Linked DNA regions of Homo sapiens: all the other regions are linked to region 1. The links come from fine-mapping of genetic effects on gene expression. A gene starts in region 1. Each other region holds a variant in brackets. All regions are shown on one strand. Distances are between the middles of the regions.

Region 1 (5,147 bases):
CTCCCCGCGGCCTGCCACCTCTGGCCACAGGGGACTTCCTGCCCTTCCTCAAAAGGAAGTCAGTCTGTGACCCAGGGCGACTGTGCTGCTGCCCCTTCCAGCCGCATGCCTCTCCCTCCGAACAGTCCACTGGTGTCAGCAAGGTCCCTGCCCTGAGTGTCACTGCCCCTGGGCAGCTGACCTGGCCCACGCCACTTCCTCCCACACCACTGCCTCCTTACCCTGCTTTATGAAGTTTTCTTGGCCCTTCTCAGTGCCCTAAATGAAATATTCATGACTTAGTTGGCATCTCCGTGGCAACCTGGCCTTGTGCCCTTGTGCCCTAGGATGTTCCAGCTCCTCACAAATACTGGCACAGAGGGGACATTCCTTGAACAGTGAATGCCACTGGACAGCCTCGAAGTCAGCGAGGATGCTGGGAGGCCATCCCAGAGGGGATCCGATGGGACCTTGGTCTAGGGGCCCTTGAAGGGTCTTCACCAACCTCAGCTTCTACGACTGTAAAAGCAACTCAAACAGAACTGTACTGTGCATGCCTGGAGGTCCCCAAACCTCCCGTTAAAATGACCAACACATGGGAGGACAGCTCTTGTGGCTGCCCCAAAGAGAAGGAGACATCCTCAATATGAAAACCACGTGCCCCACTCTGCTCCCACATGGCGTGCAACATGCCCCACACCACCCAGAGCAGGGAGGGACCCTGGCTGACTCTGGAGAGGCTGCTCTGAGGCCCAAGTCAACAAGAGGCTATGGCTGTGCAGAAGGAACAGCGCGGCGGTGACCACTGCCCAGCCTGGACAATTCCCAGGGCTCCACACATCTCTCGGTCACTGCGACCACCAGTATTATCAGATCCAACCGTTGCACGTGCAGGCGTGACTTTCTGGGTGCCTGAGTGATGGAGACAGAGACAGGCCCAAGAGTCTGTGAGTGCAGATACACAAAAGGCAACAGCAGGCTGGGCCGCCGAACTGGGCCAGGATGGACTGAGAATCCTCAGGTGGGACAAGGATCCCAATTATTCACATTTCCTGGTCCCTTCTGTCCCCACCCCATGAGAGAGGCGCCCCCGCCAGAAATATGTGTTCCCCTCCTTTTGCAGCTGGGAAAACAACCGAATGTCCTGGCGCTGCTTTCTAGAACATGTTCAGGTCTCCCAGAGCCCAGTGGCCTGAGATTCACTGGGCAGCAGGTGGCCGCCTCTCCCCAGAGCCCTTCAGTCTGGAAGTCCAAGCACAACCCTGGCGTCCAGCTCCCCTGCCACCAGGATCCAGGTTACCAGAGGCCGTCCGGGGATCTCCGGCAGCGTAGGAGGGCGGGCCCGGGCTGCAGCAGTCACGAAAACTCCGCCGGCGGCGCCCGAGGAGTTGCTAGGGGAATCTGCTCCGCCTCTAACCCGGCACACGCAGGCCCACCTGCTTCCAGCATGCCGGGACAGTTCACTGAGAGAACCGCCCCCACCGCGGAGGCACCGAGGGTCCGGCTCGCTTATGCCCACGCAGCCGGCTAGACCTTCTGTGGGGGCTCTGCTTTCTCCGCGTTACACCACCCCGACCCCACAAGGCCACGAGGAAAGTAAATGAGGCCTCAGCCCGTCCCCAGACCCCCTCCCCTAAGTGTCCACCTTTGCGCCTAGGACCCCGCGTGGGCCAAGCCGGCCTTCTCCGCTTGGACCCCGCCGGGCCTACCTGCCTTGCGCAGCAGACCGATTTGCGAGCCGTTGAGGGCCATGTAGTCGCAGTCGGTGACGACCCGCACTCGCACCCCACGCTGGTGCAGCAACTGCACGGCGCGGCCCAGCTGCGGGCTGGAGAAGGCGAACAGGCAGAGATCCAGGCTGGCGCGGGCGGCCAGCAGGGCACGCAGCAGGCGGCTTAGCGCGCTCTCGCCGTGGGGCAGGCCGCACGGGCAGCCCTCGGGGAGCTCGGCCAGCTCCGCGCCCGGAGCCCGCAGCAGGGCCTCGGTACAGGTCACCTGAGACGGGAAGAACAGCGCCTCGCGCCGCGGCCGCCGCCGCCTGGACCGCAGCCAGCGCAGCACCCAAGGCAGCGCCTCCAGAGTCAGAGCCAGGCCCACAGCCGCCGCGGCCGCCACCTGCCAACTCAACCGTCCCATGCCGCCGCTAATCCGGGACCCACAGCCACGCCGCCGCAGCGGAGTCTGCGCGCCCCCAGCCCTAGACCGCCAGGCCACGCCCCCGTCACGCGCCGCCAGCGGCCATGTGCCAGGCCACGCCCAGCCCCCCATGGCCACGCGCCAGGCCACGCCCTATCACGTCCTGCCAATTGCCACGCACCAGGCCACGCCCCCGTCACGCAGCGCCAACGGCCACGTGCCAGGCCACGTGCCAGGCCACGCCCAGCACCCATGGCCACACGCCAGGCCACGCCCCCGTCACGCCCCACCAACGGCCACGTGCAAGGTCACGCCCTCAGCCCCCGAGGGCCACGCGCTAGGCCGCGCCATGCCCCCACAACTGTCACGCACCAAGCTGAACCCACGCCTCCCATCAGCCCGCCCCCAACCCTCAACAGGTGACCACGCCTCCCTCCACGCGCCAGGCCACGCCCCCTGCCACAGACACCCTCCACCCCCCAACGCCAGGCTGTGCCCCCCATTTTCCTTCCAGCCAGGCGCTCGGCCACGCCCTCCAGGTTCCACCTCCCACCACGTGCCAAGCCACGTCCCCAAGCCCGCGCCACCAGGCAGCACCTGCACACCCGCGGGCCACGGGCCCTAGCACACCCGTCACCTGCCCAGGCCAGAGACCGCTCTCCGCGCTAGAAGCCACAGCAACCCCGGCTTTCCTCGCATGGAGCACAGCAGAGCTGCTCTGGAAATGTGGGGTCACACCTTCACTGTCTTCTCGGGAGCAGCTAGGCTGGGCTGGGGAATGACCTGGGAACACAGATAATCAGGGAATCAACACAGCTGGAGGCAGCATTGGAACCCAGCATACTGGAGGCGGTGTCGGCCCAGAGGTTTTTTCCTAGCCCAAGAGGTTTTTTCCAGCCGGCGTTGTTGGAAGGCCTGCCCTGCTTTAAGCATAAACAGAGGAAGAGACTAAGGCAGCCGAGGGCACTGGGCCGGGGGCATAGGGAAACGGGGCAATGTGGTGGTCTGGGCTGGATCCTGGAACCGAAAGAAGACATTCACGGAAAAACTGGTGAGAGCCAAATAAAGTCTGGAGCTTAATCGCATTGTACCAATGTCAGTTTCTTAGCTTTGACAAATGTATGAAAGGAATGTAAAAGGTTAACAAAGGAAGCTGCGTGGGGGTAAATGGATCTCTCTGTTCTATATTCGAAACTTTTCTGTAAAGCAAATTATTCTAAATTAAAAGTTTATTAAAATATTAAACTTGCACCTTCCATATGATCCAGCTATCCCACTCCTAGGAGAAAGGGCGGGATCCATTAACACAAGCACGTGTCCTGGCAGGCGTATGTGCCTAGAACAACCCAAAAAGGCGTCAGCAGGTAAACAGGTAAATAAGCTTTTGTATATCTGTACAAGGGAATGCTATTTAGCAATAAAATAGAATGAAGTGGCCTGGCACGGTGGTTCATGCCTGTTATCCCAGAACTTTGGGAGGCTGAGGCAGGAGGACAGCTTGAGTTCGGGAATTCGAAACCAGCTTGGCCAACATGGTGAAACACTGTCTCTACCAAAAAATACAAAAATTAGCTGAGTGCGCTGACGTGCCTGTGATCCCAGCTACTCGGGAGGCTGAGGTGGGAGAATCGCTTGAGCTCTGGAGACTAAGGTTGCAGTGAGCCAAGATCATGCCATTGCACTCCAGCCTGGGTGACACAGCAAGACCCTATCCCCCCCCCACCAAAAAAAAAAAAAAACAGTACTCACATGTGCTACGACGTGGATGAATTTCATTAATATTGAGTGGGAAAAGCCAGACAAAAAGAGTACATACTGTATGATTCCATTTACATAAAATTCTAGAAAATGCAAACTAGATTGAGGGAAAGCAGACCAGTGTAGCCTGGAGGCCAACAAAGCCACAAGGAAGTGGAGTGATGGATGTGTGCTTATCGGGTTGACTGTGGTGGTTTCACAGGTATATACATATGTCAAATTGTATGGTGTAAATAACTAAAAATGTATGTCAGTGATTATGTCAATAAAATTCTTTTTTTTTTTTTTAAGACGGAGCCTCGTTCTTTCGCCCAGGCTGGTGTGCAGTGGTGCGATCTCGGCTCACTGCAACCTCTGCCTCCGGGGTTCAAGTGAGTCTCTGCGTCAGCCTCCCGAGCAGCTGGGATTACAGGCGCCCACCACCACACCCGGCTAATTTTTGTATTTTTAGTAGAGATGGGGTTTCACCATCTTGGCCGTGCTGGTCTCGAACTCCTGACCTCGTGATCCACCTGCCTCGGCCTCCCAAAGTGCTGGGATTACAGGCGTGAGCCACCGCACCCGGCCTTCTTTTTTTTTTTTTTGAGATGAAGTCTCGCTCTGTCGCCCAGTCTGGAGTGCAGTGGCACGATCTCGGCTCACTGCAACCTTCACCTCCTGGGTTCAAGCAATTCTCCTGCCTCAGCCTCCCAAGTAGCTGGGACTACAAATGCACACCACCACATCGGCTAAATTTTTGTTTTTGTATTTTTAGTAGAGACGGGGTTTCATCGTGTTAGCTAGGATGGTCTCGATCGCCTGACCTCGTGATCAGCCTGCCTCGGCCTCCCAAAGTGCTGGAATTACAGGTGTGAGCCACCGTGCCTGGCGAATAAAATTCTTAACAAAGAAAAAGAACACTTGAGTTTAGTGCTGGCTCCCAGGCTTCCTAGCTGCATGGTCTAGGGCAAATTGATTCATCTCTTCTGAGCTTCACTTTCCTCATCTAAAACGATAATGAGAGGAGGGACTTGGAGTTGTGGAGGTATAAAGAAGGACTCAAATCCCTCCAGAGAGGGATAAACAAAAATAAAACTGGGGGAAAACAGTTTTCAAAAACAGCCACTTCAGGGCTGGAAATCTACCAAAGGCAGACAACAAAATGAGAAGCTTTATTTGATTTTTATTTATTTTTTGTCTTCCAGTTTCTATTTTTAACTTTGTCGGTATATAGTAGGTATATATATTTATCGGGTACATGAGATATTTTGGTACAGACATGCAATTTGTAATAA
Region 2 (5,147 bases), 83 kb before region 1:
CTTTGCTGACAGCGTTAGAGCTGAGGCGTTCCTTCTGGCTGGATTTGGGTTACAGCCTAGATATTTGCCCTTACTCTCGCAGCACAAGATTCAGGCCTACCCAGACACAGATGGTTGTATCCTGCCCCCTAGGCAGAGGCAGGGGAGGGGAGAGGTGCTGGCTGAGGGGCTCCCTGGAGCCATTGGTTGAGTCTGTTCAGTCTGGAAATGCTGCTGAGTGCAGAGCAGCAGGGGGACCAGCTCTGGAACCAGAGTGCCTGGGTTTGAATCCTGACATGGCTACTTCCTAGCATTGTGACCTTAAATCAAAATTACAGTTCTGCGTTGTTTAATGACAGGCACACATCCTGAGAAATGTGTTTTCTCAGGCAGTTTGGTCCTTGTGTAAATATTCTAGAGTGCACTTACACAAAGTTAGACAGTACAGCTTATTGCACACCTAGGCTTTGTGGTAGAGCCTATTGCTGCGAAGCCATAAACCTGTACAGCATATACTGCAATATCACAAGCAGTTATAACACAGTGGCAAGTATTGATGTATCCAAACCTAGCAAAACATAGAGGGAGCTGTTGACTAACATCGTTGTGCGGTGCATGACTGCACCTAGCTTCTTAGCAGTCTGCTTCCTTGTCTGCGGGATGAGAGTGACAGTAGTGCCTGCCTCATAGTGTGTTCGGAATGTTCAGTGAGAGGACACGGGAAGAGTTTGCAGCAGTGCGTGGTATTCAAGGGCATGGGCGCAAACATGAGCACCATTGTGCCCTGCGCCTGTGCTGGTGCTGTTGTTGCTGCTTCCCCATCGGCAGCAGGGGAAGGGGGAACACTGCACTACTGAGACTTGGAGGGAGCTATTTTCTTTTTCTTTTTCTTTTTTTAAGTTCAGGGGTGCAAGTGCAGGTTTGTCACATAGGTAAAGTTGTGTCATGGAAGTTTGTTGTACAGGTTATTTCATCACCCAGATATTAAGCCTAATGCCCATTAGTTACTTTTCCTGATCTTCTCCCTCTTCCCACCCTCCCCACTCTGAAAGGCCCCAGTGTGTGTTGTTTCTCTCCATGTGTCTATATGTTCTCATCATTTAGCTCCCACTTACAAGTGAGAGCATGTGCTGTGTGGTTTTCTGTTCCTGTGTTCGTTTGCTAAAGATAGTGGCCTCCAGCTCCATCCATGTCCCTGCAAAGGGTATTATCTCATTCTTTTTTATGACTACATAATATTCCATGGTGTATATATATCACATTTTCTTTCTCTGGTCTGTATCATTGATGGGCATTCCGTGTCTTTGCTATTGTGAATAGTGCTACAGTGAACATACATATGCATGTGTCTTTATAATAGAATGACTTATATTCCTTTGGGTATATACCCAGTAATGAGATTGCTGCATCAAATGGTATTTCTATCTTTAGGTCTTTGAGGAATTGCCACACTGTCTTCCACAATGGCTGAACTAATTTACACTCCCACCAACAGTGTATAAGTGTTCCTTTCTCTCCACAATCGAAGGGAGCTGTTTTTTGTTTTCATTTTGTTGTTTTTTTGTTTATTTGTTTTGTTTTGTTTTGTTTTTGAGATGGAATCTCGCTCCATCACCCAGGCTGGAGTGCAGTGGCGCAATCTCGGCTCACTGCAAGCTCCGCCTCCCGGGTTCACGCCATTCTCCTGCCTCAGCCTCCCGAGTAGCTGGGACTATAGACGACTGCCACCACGCCCAGCTAATTTTTTGTATTTTTAGTAGAGACAGGGTTTCACCGTGTTAGCCAGGATGATCTCGATCTCCTGACCTCGTGATCCGCCCGTCTTGGCCTCCCAAAGTGCTGGGATTACAGGCATGAGCCACTGCGCCTGGCCAAAGGGAGCTATTTTATAGCAGGTCCTCAGTACGTACCTGGACCTGTCTTCCAAGAGTGCTGGTTAGAAGCAGTACATAAATACAATTTAAAAAGTTAGTCCCAAACCCTCACGCAGTGCTAGTGGGAATGTGAGATGGCACAGCCACTTTGGGAAATAGTCTGGCAGCTCCTCAGAGTTAAACATATAGTTTCCATATGACCCAGCACTTCTGCTCCTAGGTACACACCCAAGAGAAATGAGAGCACAGGAGCACTGTACAGGAATGTGCACAGCAGCACTATACACAGTAGCCAAAAAATGGAAACAGTCCAAATGTCCATCAACAGATGAATGGATAAACAAAATGCGGTATAGCCGCACAATGGAACGTTATTCAGCTGTAAAAAGTATTGAAAGACTGACACATGCTGCAATGCGGAGGAACCTTGAAAATATGCTAAATCCTTGAAAATATGCTAAATGGAAGCCAGATTTTTCCATTTATGCAAGGTATCCAGAAGAGATGCATCCACAGAGGCAGGAAGCAGGTTAGCAGTTGTTGAGGTGGGGACAGGTGTCAAAGGGAAGTGACTGCGAATGGCTTTTCAGGGGGAGATGGAAATGTTCTGCACTTGATTGCAGAACAGCTCTGTGAACATGATGCTAAAAGCCATTGAACTGTACACTTTAGGTAAATTGTATGTAAATTATATCTCAATAAAGCTGTTGTTAAAAAGAAAAGTTAGGCCAGGGGCGGTGGCTTCGCGCCTGTAATGCCAGCACTGTGGGAGGCTGAAGCAGGCGGATCAGTTGATGTCAGGAGTTCGAGACCAGCCTGGCCAACATGGTGAAACCCCGTCTCTACTAAAAATACAAAAATTACTATAAAATACAAAAATATAATACTAAAAATACAAAAATTAGCTGGGTGTGGTAGCATGCATCTGTAGTCCCAGCTAGTTGGGAGGCTGAGACAGGAGAATCCCTTGAACCCAGGGGATGGAGGTTGCAGTGAGCTGAGATCACACCACTGCACTCCAGCCTGGGCAACAGAGCGAGACTTCGTCTCAAAAAAAAAAAAAAAAAAAAAGAAAGAAAAAACGAAAAGTTAATACCAGGATTAAATAAAAATGAGATCATCTGATTAAGAGCAGGAAGTTTTTTTTCCCTCCTCCATGGAAATAGATTGGGCTCTGGAGTTAAAATATTCCCTTCTTTGATAACGTATTTACCCCCATTTGCTCTCCTTTCTCTGTGTGTGATAGGGTTAGGTGATGCCCGCCTCACAGTAAGTAATATTGAAGAG[G/A]GCATAAAAGGGAGTGTAACTGTGAAATCTTGACACACAGGTAGTTAATACATGCTAATTTCCTTCAGTCCTGGCTCAGCTTGGTATGTTTTTGCCTTTTATTAATGCTTCTGAAATCCTTTTTGGAAGGAGATAGAACCCTCACTTTGCACATGAGGAAACTGAGGCCCAGAGAGGTGGAGAGGTGGAAGGCATTGCTTCATACTCATTTGGTGAGGCTGAGACACAACCACGTTCAGCAGCAGAGCAGGGGCTTTGTTCAGCTGGGGGCCAAGTGCCCAAACAATTACTGCGTAAGAGGGAAGAGTGGGCTTCAGGGACAGTGAGCAATTTGGTGACACTGAACCCTGGAACAGTGGCCTCAAAGTGGGGTCTGTGCCTCCAGGGGGCCGGTGGATGATCCCTTGAGAAGAAAACTTTGGAATTTCTGTTGATATATTCCATCTAACATATGTCTCTGTGTGTGTGTGTGCACACGCATGCACACTCATAATAGACTGGCACCATGGTATGGATACACAGCTCATCCAGGGCCTGTACTGTCAGCAGTTTGAGACCACGGTCCCAAGGACCAGGGTGGGAGTCAAAGACCAGAGAGGAAGGGCCACCTTAGGAAAGCCCCTCTGCCTCCACAGTGGTTCCTTCAGGATGGCTTCTGACACTCTAGTAACGAGTGCACTGGCCACTTTACCATTTCATGTCATCCAGTCCTCACTGTGGTCCATGGAGTTTCCTCAGCAAACAAGAGAGTCCACCTCAGAGAGACAAGATGCCTTGTCTAGGGAGGTGGAGGTGGGGTGCGCTTTTGCATGGGGGTGTTGGGCTCAAGAGGGAAGTCAGAGCAACCCTTCATTTGCCCAGAGGGTTCAGACAGGCACCTGCACTATGCCAGGATGCCCAGGATGAGAATTTCTGTCAAATAGAGTAAAGGGGCTGGAGCTGGAGAGAGGAGATTAGGAAAGCCAGGACCCCCACCTTGGGCAGGAAGGCCCACCTGTCCTGTGGCTGTGGCCATAGCACTCAGTGTGGGTCTCCCCAACCAGAAGGTGGCAGGGGCTTGGATCCAGGCTTCCTGGACTAACATAAAGATGGGGTCTGAGGCTGCCTCCTGTACCCTCTCCTTCTCAAGAAACACCCACTGCTTGGTTGCAGAGCAACCCTACCCATCTCCCTTTCCTGGCTCCTTCTCAAGGACCCTCCAAGAGTGTCTGGAAGAGACACCTGCGGGCCACTCCACTGATGGAGAGCACTGAGCTGGGCTTGAATGTGGCTCCTCCTCGTGTCCCCCCAGGGTCAGTGTTGAGGCAGGATGCCAATGGTGTATGCTGAAAGGGTGAAGCCACTGAAGGAGGCTTCCCTGTGAGCCCAGCCTCCATCCCACCTGCTGTGCCACCTCCCTTCTGAGCTGGACCCACGGGGGATGGCTGAGTCCAGAGACCCCACAAGGAAAGGCTTCTTGGACCTGGACATTTAACCATGGAGAAAAGAGCCAGCAGCCATGTAGGCAAGGGCTCTGCAAAGCCAGCAGCCCTCCGGTCTGACTCCTGCAGGCAGGCATCAAGGGGTGTAGAAAGAGGTGGCAAGTAGGTCAGAGGAAGTAACAGGAAGATCACAGGAGCTTGAGGTGGAGGGACAAGGAGGTTGCACCTAACCTGTTTCTGAAAGGAAGAAGGTCGGGGTGTGGAGAGTGGTTGGTCTGAGCTCAGCATGGGCACCAGACCCAGCATCCTGCTCTTGAGACCAAGCCCCCATTGACTGTCAGCAAGGAGCTTGAGGCTGGATGGCCTCTGGGTGGAAGGCAGCCCAACTGCAGGCCACCCCTCAGATGGATCAGAAGCATCTTCTGCTTCTTCAAGAATGAGAACAAGGAAATGGTGGGCTGTTGGGGGTGCTCAGTGGAGAAGCCAGCAGCTGTCCATTAGTGGGGTGGAGTCAGTGTGGAGTGTGTTAAGGACAGGGGCACCCCTGGTGTGGTGGTAACCATGGCAACCCATCTGCTCTCCCAAA
Region 3 (5,147 bases), 160 kb before region 1:
GAGTGTGAGCACTCAGGAGGCTGCATAGAGTGAAAGGAGAGGAACCAGCCTAGGAAGCCCCCATGTAGTGGGCAGGCAAAAGGGGAGCAGGTGCAGAGGCTGGGAGGTGAATCAGAGGGGTGGGCATTAGTGGGAGAAGCAGGTCTGGAACCCAGGGTGCTCAGCTTCTACATCCGCGTGTTGATCTGGGGGTGATGTCTCTTTCTCCTGCTGACTGTGTAACTTCAGGCATTGCCTCTGTGGAAGGAGCCTGCAAGCCTGTTTCTACTTCTTTGTCTAGCCCTGTTTTTTTGTGGGACCTTGGCTGGGTCATTTTCATTGCTCAGGCCTGTTTTCCCATCTGGAAATGAGCTCGGTCTTGATCTCTCCCAGGGTTCTTAGTCTTCCTGGTGTGATTCTGCCCTTGCTGTGCCCATACCCCACTGCCAAGGCTCCAAAGCTGCGGGGGCCTCAGGTGGGAATTTCAGACATAGAGGGTGTGGGCCAGGACGAGGTCTCAGGGAAGCATTTCATCAGGTTTCCCTTTGTTCCTGTAGACATTCGTAGAAGTTCTAAGGCATAGGACTTCCTGATTTGACTTAATGTGTATCTCAGAAACAACGGGGAGATTTCGCATCCCCCCCTTGTAGAAGATCTGTAACAGGAGTTGGTGTGTTGCTTGGCAGGGAGCGTGTCAAAAATCTCAGACACACAAAATCCCATTTCAGACGGCCAAGCACCATGACAAATGCTCAGCGTTGTCATCAGCGAAACCCAAATTGAAACCACAGTGAGATATCACTTCATACCTGTCAGGATGGCTAGAATTAAAAAAATAAGAATATAACATGTTGGCGAGGATGTGAAGAAGTTATAACTCTTGCACGTTGCTGGTGGGAATGAAATGGTGTAGCTGCTGTGGAAACAGTTTGGGGGTTTCTCAAAAAGTTCAGCATAAAACCTACCACGTGAGCCAGCATTCCCACTTCTAGGTATATGCCAAGAAGAATTGAGGACAGGTGTATTCAAACAGATACTTGTATACAAATGTTCATAACAGCACTACTCACAATAGCCAAACGGCAGCAACAATCCAAGTGTCCATCCACTAATGCGTAGATAAGCAAATCATAGTGTATCCATACCATGGAATATCATTCAGTTCTAAGAAGGAGCGAAGTACTGAGACATGCCACAACATGGACGAACCTAGAAAACATTGCGCTAAGAGGCAGACATGAAAGGTCATGTGTCACATACTGTGTGATTCCATTTATGTAAAATGTCCAAAACAGGTAAATCTGTAGAAACAGAAAGCAGATCGGTTGTTGCCAGAGCCTGAGGGTTGGGTGGGCAATGTGGAATGACTGCTAATGAGACTGGGGTTCTATTTTGGGGGTGATGAAATGTTTTGGAACTAGATAAAAGTGCTGGTTGCACAGCCTTGTGAAATGTACTAAATGCCCCTGAATTGTTCACTTCCAAATGCTTCTTGACTTATGATGGGACTTATGGTGGGGGTACATCCAGGTAAAACCCATCAGACCTATCACAAAGTCAAAATTATAAGTCAGGGACTGTCTGTACAAGAATCGCTCTCTCACACACACACACCTGCCTTCTGCTCCTTGTGTCACCTGGAGTGAATATCTGATTGTTTCTAGAGTCTAGACCAAGGCTTGGCAATTTTTTTTATAAAGGACTCTTCTTTTATCCTGGGGAACTCCTTCCCCAAGCCACTCTTTCCCACCTGAATGACACAGTTGGACCAGGTCGGTGGTTTTCAAGCTTTCATCAAATCCCGGAGCCTTTTACTCAAAAGAAATCTTGTATATTTTAGGTTTTGCAGGCCAACAGGCAAAATCGAGGAGGTTGTGTAGGATATAGCCACTTAAAAATGTAAAAGCCATTCTTGGTTTTGGGGTCTTAGAAAAGCAGCTGGTGGGCCAATTTGGCACAGGGGCACAGTGTGCCACCCCTCAGACCAGCCCTGTCCTCTAGAACTGTAATGGAAGCCACATAGGAAATTTTAAATTTTCCAGCGGCTACGTTAAAAAAGTAAAAAGAGGGGCCGGGTGCAGTGGCTCACGCCTGTAATTTCAGCACTTTGGGAGGCCGAGACGGGCGGATCACGAGGTCAGGAGATCAAGACCATCCTGGCTAACACAGTGAAACCCGTCTCTACTAAAAATACAATAAATTAGTCGGGGCCGGGCACAGTGGCTCACGCCTGCAATCCCAGCACTTTGGGAGGCCGAGGCGGGTGGATCACGAGGTCAGGAGATCGAGACCACGGTGAAACCCTGTCTCTACTAAAAATACAAAAAATTAATCGGGCGTGGTGGTGGGCGCCTGTAGTCCCAGCTACTCAGGAGGCTGAGGCAGGAGAATGGTGTGAACCCGGGAGGCGGAGCTTGCAGTGAGCTGAGATTGCGCCACTGCACTCCAGCCTGGGCAATAGAGTGAGACTCCGTCT[CA/C]AAAAAAAAAAAAAAAAAAAAGAGGTGAAATTAATTTTAATTATGTTTTATTTAACCAGATATATCCAAAATACTGTCATTACACCATGCAAAAAAGTTATGACGTGCGCATTTTACGTTACAGCACATTTCAGCTCAGACGAGCCACTTTCCCACTGCTTAGTAGCCTGGTGGTGTGGCCGCTGCCCGCAGTCCTGGTGGCAGCCCTGGGGTGCCACAGGTGGTGGTGAGTTTCCTCCGTCCCTCCCTTGGGCCTTGGGTTGGAAGGTTCCTGGAGTGCTGCTTCTCTGGGACTTGTTACTCCTGTTTGTGTCCCCACTCCTCCTTGGCCCTTGGTGTCTATTGCCAACTTTTGAAGTTTCTTTCTTTGACTATCACATCTTTGATGGCTTCTTTTGGTGTGTTAGAAGTTCTCTTCTGGGCTCTGATCCCCACTCCCTGCCCAGAGGCAGAGTTTAGGGGCAGAAGGGAGGAAGGTCCTTGCCAGGGCCTCAGGCCTGTCCTGTGGGGAGCCGGTGAGGGCCGTGGTGGGCAGGCTGGCGTATCCCCCTCTAAACTGGACGTGCAATGTTCCAGTATTATGTAATTGCACCCTAGCTTTTTTCCCTGGGTTCTAGCCTGTTACCTGATCTTTTCCTCTGATTTCTCTTTCCCTTGCCACACAGAAGGACTATAGTCCAAGGCCTATGTTCTCTTCCTGACACAAATGTGCAGGGTGACCCAGGAAGGTGACTTATGTCTCCCACCTGTAAAGCGGGTGCCTGCCTTCTCTTTGCAGAGTAGTGTGCTGATGGAATGGGGAGTTCCTGAGCCCCCCATGTGGTGAGGGATGTTCCAGGAAGCACGCTGGCTGCCGCCTCTGGGGGAAGTAGCCTTTCTTTGGGCAACCTCATGTTCTTTAGCAGAAATAAAGAAATTTAACTCAGAATGTTTAAATTGTTCCCAAGCTGCCACTTAGTCTTGAAAGAGGGAGAGAGTGTGGCAGCGAGGCACAGGGGAAGACATCCTACTACTGGACATGGAGGATCATTGGGTGCTAATTTGGAAGCATCTGACCTAAGAAAACGGGCTCTTCTCTTATCCTGGGAAACTCATTCCCCAAGCCACTCTTTCTCAGCTGAATGACACCGTTGGACCAGGTGGATGGTTTTCAAGCTTTCATCAAAAGCAGTGCAGCTCTGGGCAAGGCAGCCAAAGCCTGGAGCTTGGCCTCCCATCCTGGGGCGGGGTGGCGGGGGAGGGCCTTGGGTCATCTCTGGGGCCATTTGGGGCAGGTTCGAAAACTCTGCCCTAGATTTTGTGCTTTTTCCAGTTTTAGCAATTGAGGCAGTCTTACAGCTGCTCTGGAATGGAGCCCCCATGCCCTACCCAGAGCTCTCAAGGCATTGTCACTTCCGTTGGGGGCAAGAGCACCTAGGGGGTTGATTCACTGACATTTTGTCTCTGGAAGCTGGAACTGAAATCTTCCAAACCACTCACTGGTTTTCTCAGTCAGGGTCATCCTAGTTCACATGAAACCACAGCCTGGTTTTTGCCTGGAGCCTGTAACCCTTCTGGCTCCTTCCCCTTGGGCGCAGCTTGGCGGTTGCATGCTGTGCCAGAGGTGGCCCTGGTGTCAGAGCTGCTTTGCAGCGAGACTCTGAGTGGATGGGCCTGCCGGATCCTTTGAACCTCTACCTACTATATTGTGTCATAGCCCGTGATTTCACACAGACCTCAGCAGGCAAGGGTGGCCAGCAGGGCTGGTGGCAGCAAGGCCTCCCTCGGAGGAGGGGACCCTGAGTTTTCAGAGTGGTTGAGCGGCCTGCCCAAGGTCACTGAGCTGCTCAGCAATGGGGCCGTGATACAGATTTCAGCTCCATGAGGCTCCCGTGCCAGAGTCCACCCTGGCTCCAGACTCCACCCTGGCTCCAGACTCATCCTCCCTGTCCTTGGGAAGGCCACTTTGCTTTGTAAACTCCTTAGTGTTTTTGTTTGGCCCCGGGGCAGATGGGTAGTAGGGAGATTGGTATATTGCAGTGCTGCAGAATAAATCACAGCTGTTTCCTGGACTTCTAGTTCCTAGCCCTGGGAAGAGGGACCTGCTGGGGCTGTCTGCACCTGCCCTCCCTGCCTTTCCCCCACATTATGCAGGTGAGGGATTGTCTTCAATTAGCAGATGGAGCCGCCGAGACCTGGAGAGGTTCAGCAGAGGTTCAGCGACCTGCCTAGGTCACAGGAAGTCCAGCACGATTTTTTCCAAAGTCCTGTTTGGCCACCTTGTCTCTAATAAGTGTTAACCTTTGCTATCAGGAACAGGGCCTTGCCCCAACTTGGACTCCTTAGTTCTTGAGTGTGTGGTGGGGCGTGTGTGTGAACGGTGCAGGCTGTTGTGCAGGGCATCGCCCAGATCTTCACCTCTCCTCAGCCTCGGGGTGCCCCACATCCCCAACATGGGCTACTGGCCTAGGCAGCAGCCACACCTTTGGCACAGCTCTGAACAGGAAGCACAATTTTTTCCTCTGAAAGAGGAATTCAGAATCAGGAAATAGCTTTGTCCTTGATCTCTGTAGGTTCTGAGGCACTGGATTTAACAGACCCACAAGCAACCGTGGCGCACTTTCCACACAAGGTTTCTGACCTCCTCGTGGTCCTTCCCATAGATAAAGGGGCCAAGGGAAGGGGGAGCAGCTGCAGGGAGCCCCAGCTGAG
Region 4 (5,147 bases), 180 kb before region 1:
GCTGACAATGAGCTGCATTCTTCAGAGAGGCTGCCCCAGTCCCCCCAGCTGACGTAAGCCCTGGGCGTGGCAGGTGCACTCAGGAGGCAGGGCTGCCTGCTCAGTGTTGGGTGGAGCCACATGCCTGTCCAGGGCTGGGTCCACCCTGTGTGGACTGAGGCCACCATGTGCACGGTTTTCAGCTATGCCTCATTCGCTTGCTGTGTGAATCTGGGCTGCAGGGCCTGCTGCTGTGTGCCACAGGCCAGTGCCCTGCAGTGCAATTGTACCTGAGGACCCAAGGTGGCCAGGGAAGCCCCAGGTGCGACTTGGCAGGGGAAGCAGGGGCTGTGGACGGATGGAGAGCTGTCATGTGGAAAGGCAGTGTGTCCCCAGGCCGTGGCCCAGCCTCCAACACCCCCAAGTCCCCTCCAGGCCTCTCCAGACCAGGCCCACCACATACTGCCTGTGCAACCTCGGGTGAGTGACCTCACCTCTCCAAGCCTCAAAGTCCTGATCCCCATTGGGAGGGTGCAGTCAGAGGGTGAGTCTGAGCCCCCTGGGGCCTGGCAGGCTCTGTATGCATGGCAGCCACCTGCCCACACTCACCCCAGACATCTGCTCATTCCAGAAACCTCCTGGGAACATCCACCATATGCCAGGCATAGTGTCAGACAGGAGGGGACAGAGAAAAACAAGATCAACAACCGCCCTGCCCTTGTGGAGCTGGCGTTCTAGTACCGGAGACAAAACAAGGTGCTTCCAAGGAGGAAGCCGTGCTCATCAGGTAATCCGCATAATCGCTCAGGAGGAGACTTGGCAGCCAGATGGAGACGCCACCTGGGGTCTTAGGGGAACAGCATTCCAGGCAGAGGGAACTGCAGCTGCAAAGATCCTGAGGAGGAATGAGTGCCCAGCGTTTGAGAAGCAGAGCCGGCCTCTGGACGCCTGCCCTAGGGAGAAGGCTTTCCACCTCATTTTTAGGGTCCTAGGGGATCCCCTCCACTGTGAATGCACGAATGCACAAGGATGACATCGGCCCTTTTATAGAGGGGAAGTTCTTCCCGTAAACAAACCAAAGTCCCTCTGGGGGACTTTGCAACTGAAGCTGAGCCTTCTCTTTTAGTCACTCCCACCCCCCAGACCCAGAGCCAGCTGATTCCTCCTGCATCCTGCTCACAGCTCCAGGAAAGCGTCCTGGTGGGGAAAGTCAGTGAAACACCAGGTGGCCTAAGGTATTTTCCCAGGACCTCAATGTGACTAGACAGGGCTAGCTTATCAACCCTGGGATGCGATGAGAGGGGCAAAGCCCGGCAAAAGAAACTGGACCCAGGGCACTGAGGGAAGCCTAGGTCCCGTCTGAGTGCTCCGCACAGGGATAGGAGGAGAGACAGTCGGGGGTTTTGTGAGGGAGGGGATAGGTGGGTGGTAGTAATGAGGGGTGTTCAAGTCAGTGCCCAGCAACCAAGAGGAGGAAGGAGGTAGAGGGGGTGTCAAGCAAGCCGTAGCTTCAGGCACAGCTGGATCCATAACCCTGAGGCTTGGGCTATGATGGCTGTTGCCCAACCCCCACTCCCATATCACCCAGGTCTCAGTCACCTTCCTCTCTGTGACACAACAGCCTCCTCCCTAGGGCTCCTTCCTTCCACTCTTGCCCCCACAAATCCATTCTCCATATATTGTTAAAACCATGCCACTCTCCTGCTTAACCCCTCCCCCCATGGCTTCCTGACGCCCTCCACATAAAGCAGAAACTCCTTACCCAGGCCCCAGAGACCCCCGCTGACCTCCCCAACCCCACCTCTCTCTCCTCTCCCCTCACTGCCTCTGTCCTTTCTGTCCCTTGAACACACCAAGCACATCCCCACCTGGCCAGCATTGCACCTGCTGTCCTGTCCCCCGGGTGCATCACCATGTGGCCGCCCCTTCTCAGCAGGACAGCCTAGATGTCGCTGTCCTCGGCCATCTGGCCCCCAGCCTTCTGTCCACTCCCCACACCAGCCCTGTCCGGCAGCTCCTTCTGTGATGGAAGTGCTCTTTGTCCACTGTCACCAGCCTCTGTCAGAAGCTACCGGCCCCGTGTGGCTAACAAGCCCCTGAAATGCGGCTACTGCAATGGAAGAACTGGACTCTTAATTTTCAATTACTCCAATTACTTGAAACTCATATAGCCACATGGGGCTAGTGGCCACCATTTGGACAGAGCGACTCCAATGTTCTACATGGTGTAATTTTATTTACTAGCCCTTAGCACAAAGTGACGTGATCTTAACTTCACTTGTTTTCTGTCTCTCTGACGAGAGTATCAGCTTTGTGAGGTGAGGATTGCCTCCGTCTTTTCCACTGCTGTATGCCGGGGCTTAGTAGTGGGCCTGGCGTATAGTAGATGCTTAATATGTAATTG[C/CTGAA]TGAATGAATGAATGAATGAATGAATGAATGAATGAATGCATGCATGAGTGAATGAATGACTCCTGGGGCCATGAACTCTGAATTTCTCCAAAAGGAATGCTAGTTCTGCCGGGGATTGTTGCTGTGTGACCTAAGTCAGGATCTTGCCCTCTCTGGGCTCAGCATCCTGACCAAGGGGTACCAGGGCCCCTCTGCTCCTAAGGCTCTGAGACTTCCTGCTGCTTACTCTGTCCAAGCTGCCCCGTCTATCCTTCATCCCCGATGCCCACCCCCAGTCTCCCCAGCCACTTCATAGGAAAGGGGCCAGACAGGCTTCCTGTCCCTGGAGCCTGTGTCTAGAGAGCCATCAAAGCAGGCTGCCTGTACCCGTCTCCTAGCAACAAATGGCCTTAGGAAGTATTTGAGGGTGGGATAAAGTGGTGGCCACTGTGGGGCTGTGTCCCAAATCGACAGCTCTCCAGTTGGCCAAGGGCAAGTGTTTCCCAGGAGCCAGGCCAAGGCAGGCTGGCAGTCGTGGTACATGCACCAGGAGTCGGCTCCAGGGTCCTCCAAGCCTGGGCCCTGCAGTCGGCCACCCTTACCTTCTCGTGCCTGTGCTTGGGGTTCAGAGGTGGCAGGGGGTGCTTGGGCCCTACATGCTTCTTGTGGGGACCTGTAGGAACCAGGCATGAGGAAGTGAGGAGTGGGTGCTGACTGTCAGTGACTCGAACCCTGACTGCCCCAGCATCCAACACTCACACGCATGCACATGTGCCTACTCAGCCGGACACAACACACAACTATGCATGCTGACACGCACTTGTGCAGAGGCATAGGCACAGACTGCACTTACCTTATTCTATTTATTATTTTTATTTTATTTTTAGAGACAAGTTCTCACTCTGTCGCCCAGCCTGGAGTGCAGTCATGCCATCCTAGCTCACTGCAGCCTCAATTTCCTGGGCTCAAGCGATCCCCCCGCCTCAGTCTTTCAAGTAGCTGGGCCTACAGGTGTGTGCCACCATGCCCAGCTAATTTTTAATTTTTTTGTAGAGATGAGGTCTCACCATGCTGTCCGGGTTGGTCTCAAACTCCTGGCCTCAAGCGATCCTCCTGCCTCAGCCTCCCAAAGTGCTGGGATTATAGGTATGAGGCAACTTGCCAAGCCCAAACATGCACATAGATATGGACACATGGACCTGCATATATAAAACAGACATGCAAACATATACAGCTCAATCAGACAGAATACACACACACAATGACACTCACAGACAATCACATAGAAGCCCAGATATATATGCAGTGGGGCCAGCCAGATAGCCCAGTTGCCCACAAACACACATAAATATGTACCATCATCTCACAGATCATATGACATGCAAAGATGGATGCATCTGTACAATTCACACACATATTCACAAGTCAGAGATGCAGGTCAGACCCCCAGATAAACAGGCCAACATGCATGTAGACACATAACATGGTCATTCCCAGAAACACCCTCAGAGATAGCCAGACCACCCTCTGGACATGCACAGACACAGACACATAAGGAGATGATATATCAATGACTCTTACACACACCCACGAGTCACAGCCCCTGAAGTGATATGGTGAACTAGAAGTGTCAGCCCCCATTCCTGTGGACTCTGAGCAAACCTCCACTCCCCAGCCTGGCCACACGCAGGCACGCAGGCCGGAAGAGCTGCCGCCTCTCCCTGCCCCGGCCAGCTGGCCGTCCTCCAGGCTTGGTGCAGATGGTGGGGCCAGGGCAGGGACAGCCCAGCCTGTGGCCTGTGTTGCCTGCCTCTTGAGTCCCAGGCCTCTTCTTCTTGGCTGTGGGACCCTGAAGGCCCCCTCCCCACAGCTGAGTAGGCCCTGACAATTTGTGTAACAACCTCGATTTCTGATTTCTTTTGGAAAATTAAAAGATCGATCACGACCAGGCCCAAATCCTGTAGGACAGACGGCTACGACCGAGGCCATGGAGCTGCTGCCTGTTGTAGGAGCATGGACACCCCAGATCACTGAGGCCACTGCTGCCACCTGCCTGGCCCTAGAGGCCTCTGAGTGTGCAACCCTGGAACTACATGCTTCCCTGCATGTCCTGAAAAAGAAAAACATGTCAATCCAGAGAGCAGATTACTACAACTTTCTTGGCTCTTTGTTTAGTGATACTTATCAAGAGCCTTACCAATGTGTTTATCTTTTGACTTAGCAATCCCAACCCATGAATTTATCCTAAGAAAAAAAAAATTTAAAAAGTACACAAACATTGTTCATGAATGGCTAGATACGCACATACGCATACATATGCAGCCCTGTGTCCCTGTGTGTATGCACATGTACATTATATATATATACATATATATATATATATATATATATATATATATAATTTTTTAAGATGAAGTCTTGCTCTGTCACCCAGGCTGGAGTGCAGTGGCGCCATCTCAGCTCACTGCAACCTCTACCTCCCCGGTTCAAGAGATTGTCCTACCTCAGCCCCCCGAGTAGCTGGGATTATAGGCGCACACCGCCATGCCTGGCTAATTTTTTTGTATCTTTAGTAGAGATGGGGTTTCACCATGTTGGCCAGGCTGGTCTCGAACTCCTAACCTCAGGTGATCCGCCCACCCTGGCCTCCCAAAGTGCTGGGATTACAGGCATGAGCCACCGTGCCCAGCCTACATGTGCATATATACACATTCATGTAGACATACACCTTGTTATTAGAGTTTTTACAAATACGGTCTCATTCAGCAAAAACTATGTGAGGCC

Direction of the effects. Alleles are on the strand shown, and positions count from the first base shown. SD is a standard deviation of normalised expression in the study named. Not every link is listed here.
With allele C in place of CA in region 3, the expression in naive CD8 T cells of the gene that starts at base 2,162 in region 1 is lower (large effect, 0.88 SD a copy in Schmiedel 2018).

Evidence for each region. PIP is the estimated chance that this variant, and not a neighbour inherited with it, causes the effect. A credible set is the group of variants that fine-mapping cannot tell apart.
Region 2: its variant is the best candidate, but not a certain one, in a credible set for the expression of PLD6 in whole blood (INTERVAL, PIP 0.81).
Region 3: its variant is the best candidate, but not a certain one, in a credible set for the expression of PLD6 in naive CD8 T cells (Schmiedel 2018, PIP 0.88).
Region 4: its variant is the best candidate, but not a certain one, in a credible set for the expression of PLD6 in whole blood (INTERVAL, PIP 0.89).

The regions. Positions count from the first base shown.
Region 1 is chr17:17,204,172-17,209,318 of GRCh38, forward strand. PLD6 (phospholipase D family member 6) reads right to left here and starts at 2,162. Exons shown (of 2, transcript NM_178836.4): 1 at 1,689-2,162. The coding sequence starts at 2,115. RefSeq lists enhancers at 1,181-1,300, 2,356-3,195 and silencers at 1,821-1,940, 1,961-2,010, 2,131-2,380, 2,421-2,470.
Region 2 is chr17:17,120,801-17,125,947 of GRCh38, forward strand. The region is part of intron 3 of MPRIP (myosin phosphatase Rho interacting protein); the gene reads left to right. Among named protein-coding and RNA genes, the nearest start is that of MPRIP, 81 kb to the left of the region's middle. The variant G/A (reference allele first, on the strand shown) is at 3,141.
Region 3 is chr17:17,047,859-17,053,005 of GRCh38, forward strand. The region is part of intron 1 of MPRIP (myosin phosphatase Rho interacting protein); the gene reads left to right. Among named protein-coding and RNA genes, the nearest start is that of MPRIP, 8.0 kb to the left of the region's middle. The variant CA/C (reference allele first, on the strand shown) is at 2,456.
Region 4 is chr17:17,028,218-17,033,364 of GRCh38, forward strand. No RefSeq gene overlaps it. Among named protein-coding and RNA genes, the nearest start is that of MPRIP, 12 kb to the right of the region's middle. RefSeq lists an enhancer at 1,147-1,721. The variant C/CTGAA (reference allele first, on the strand shown) is at 2,384.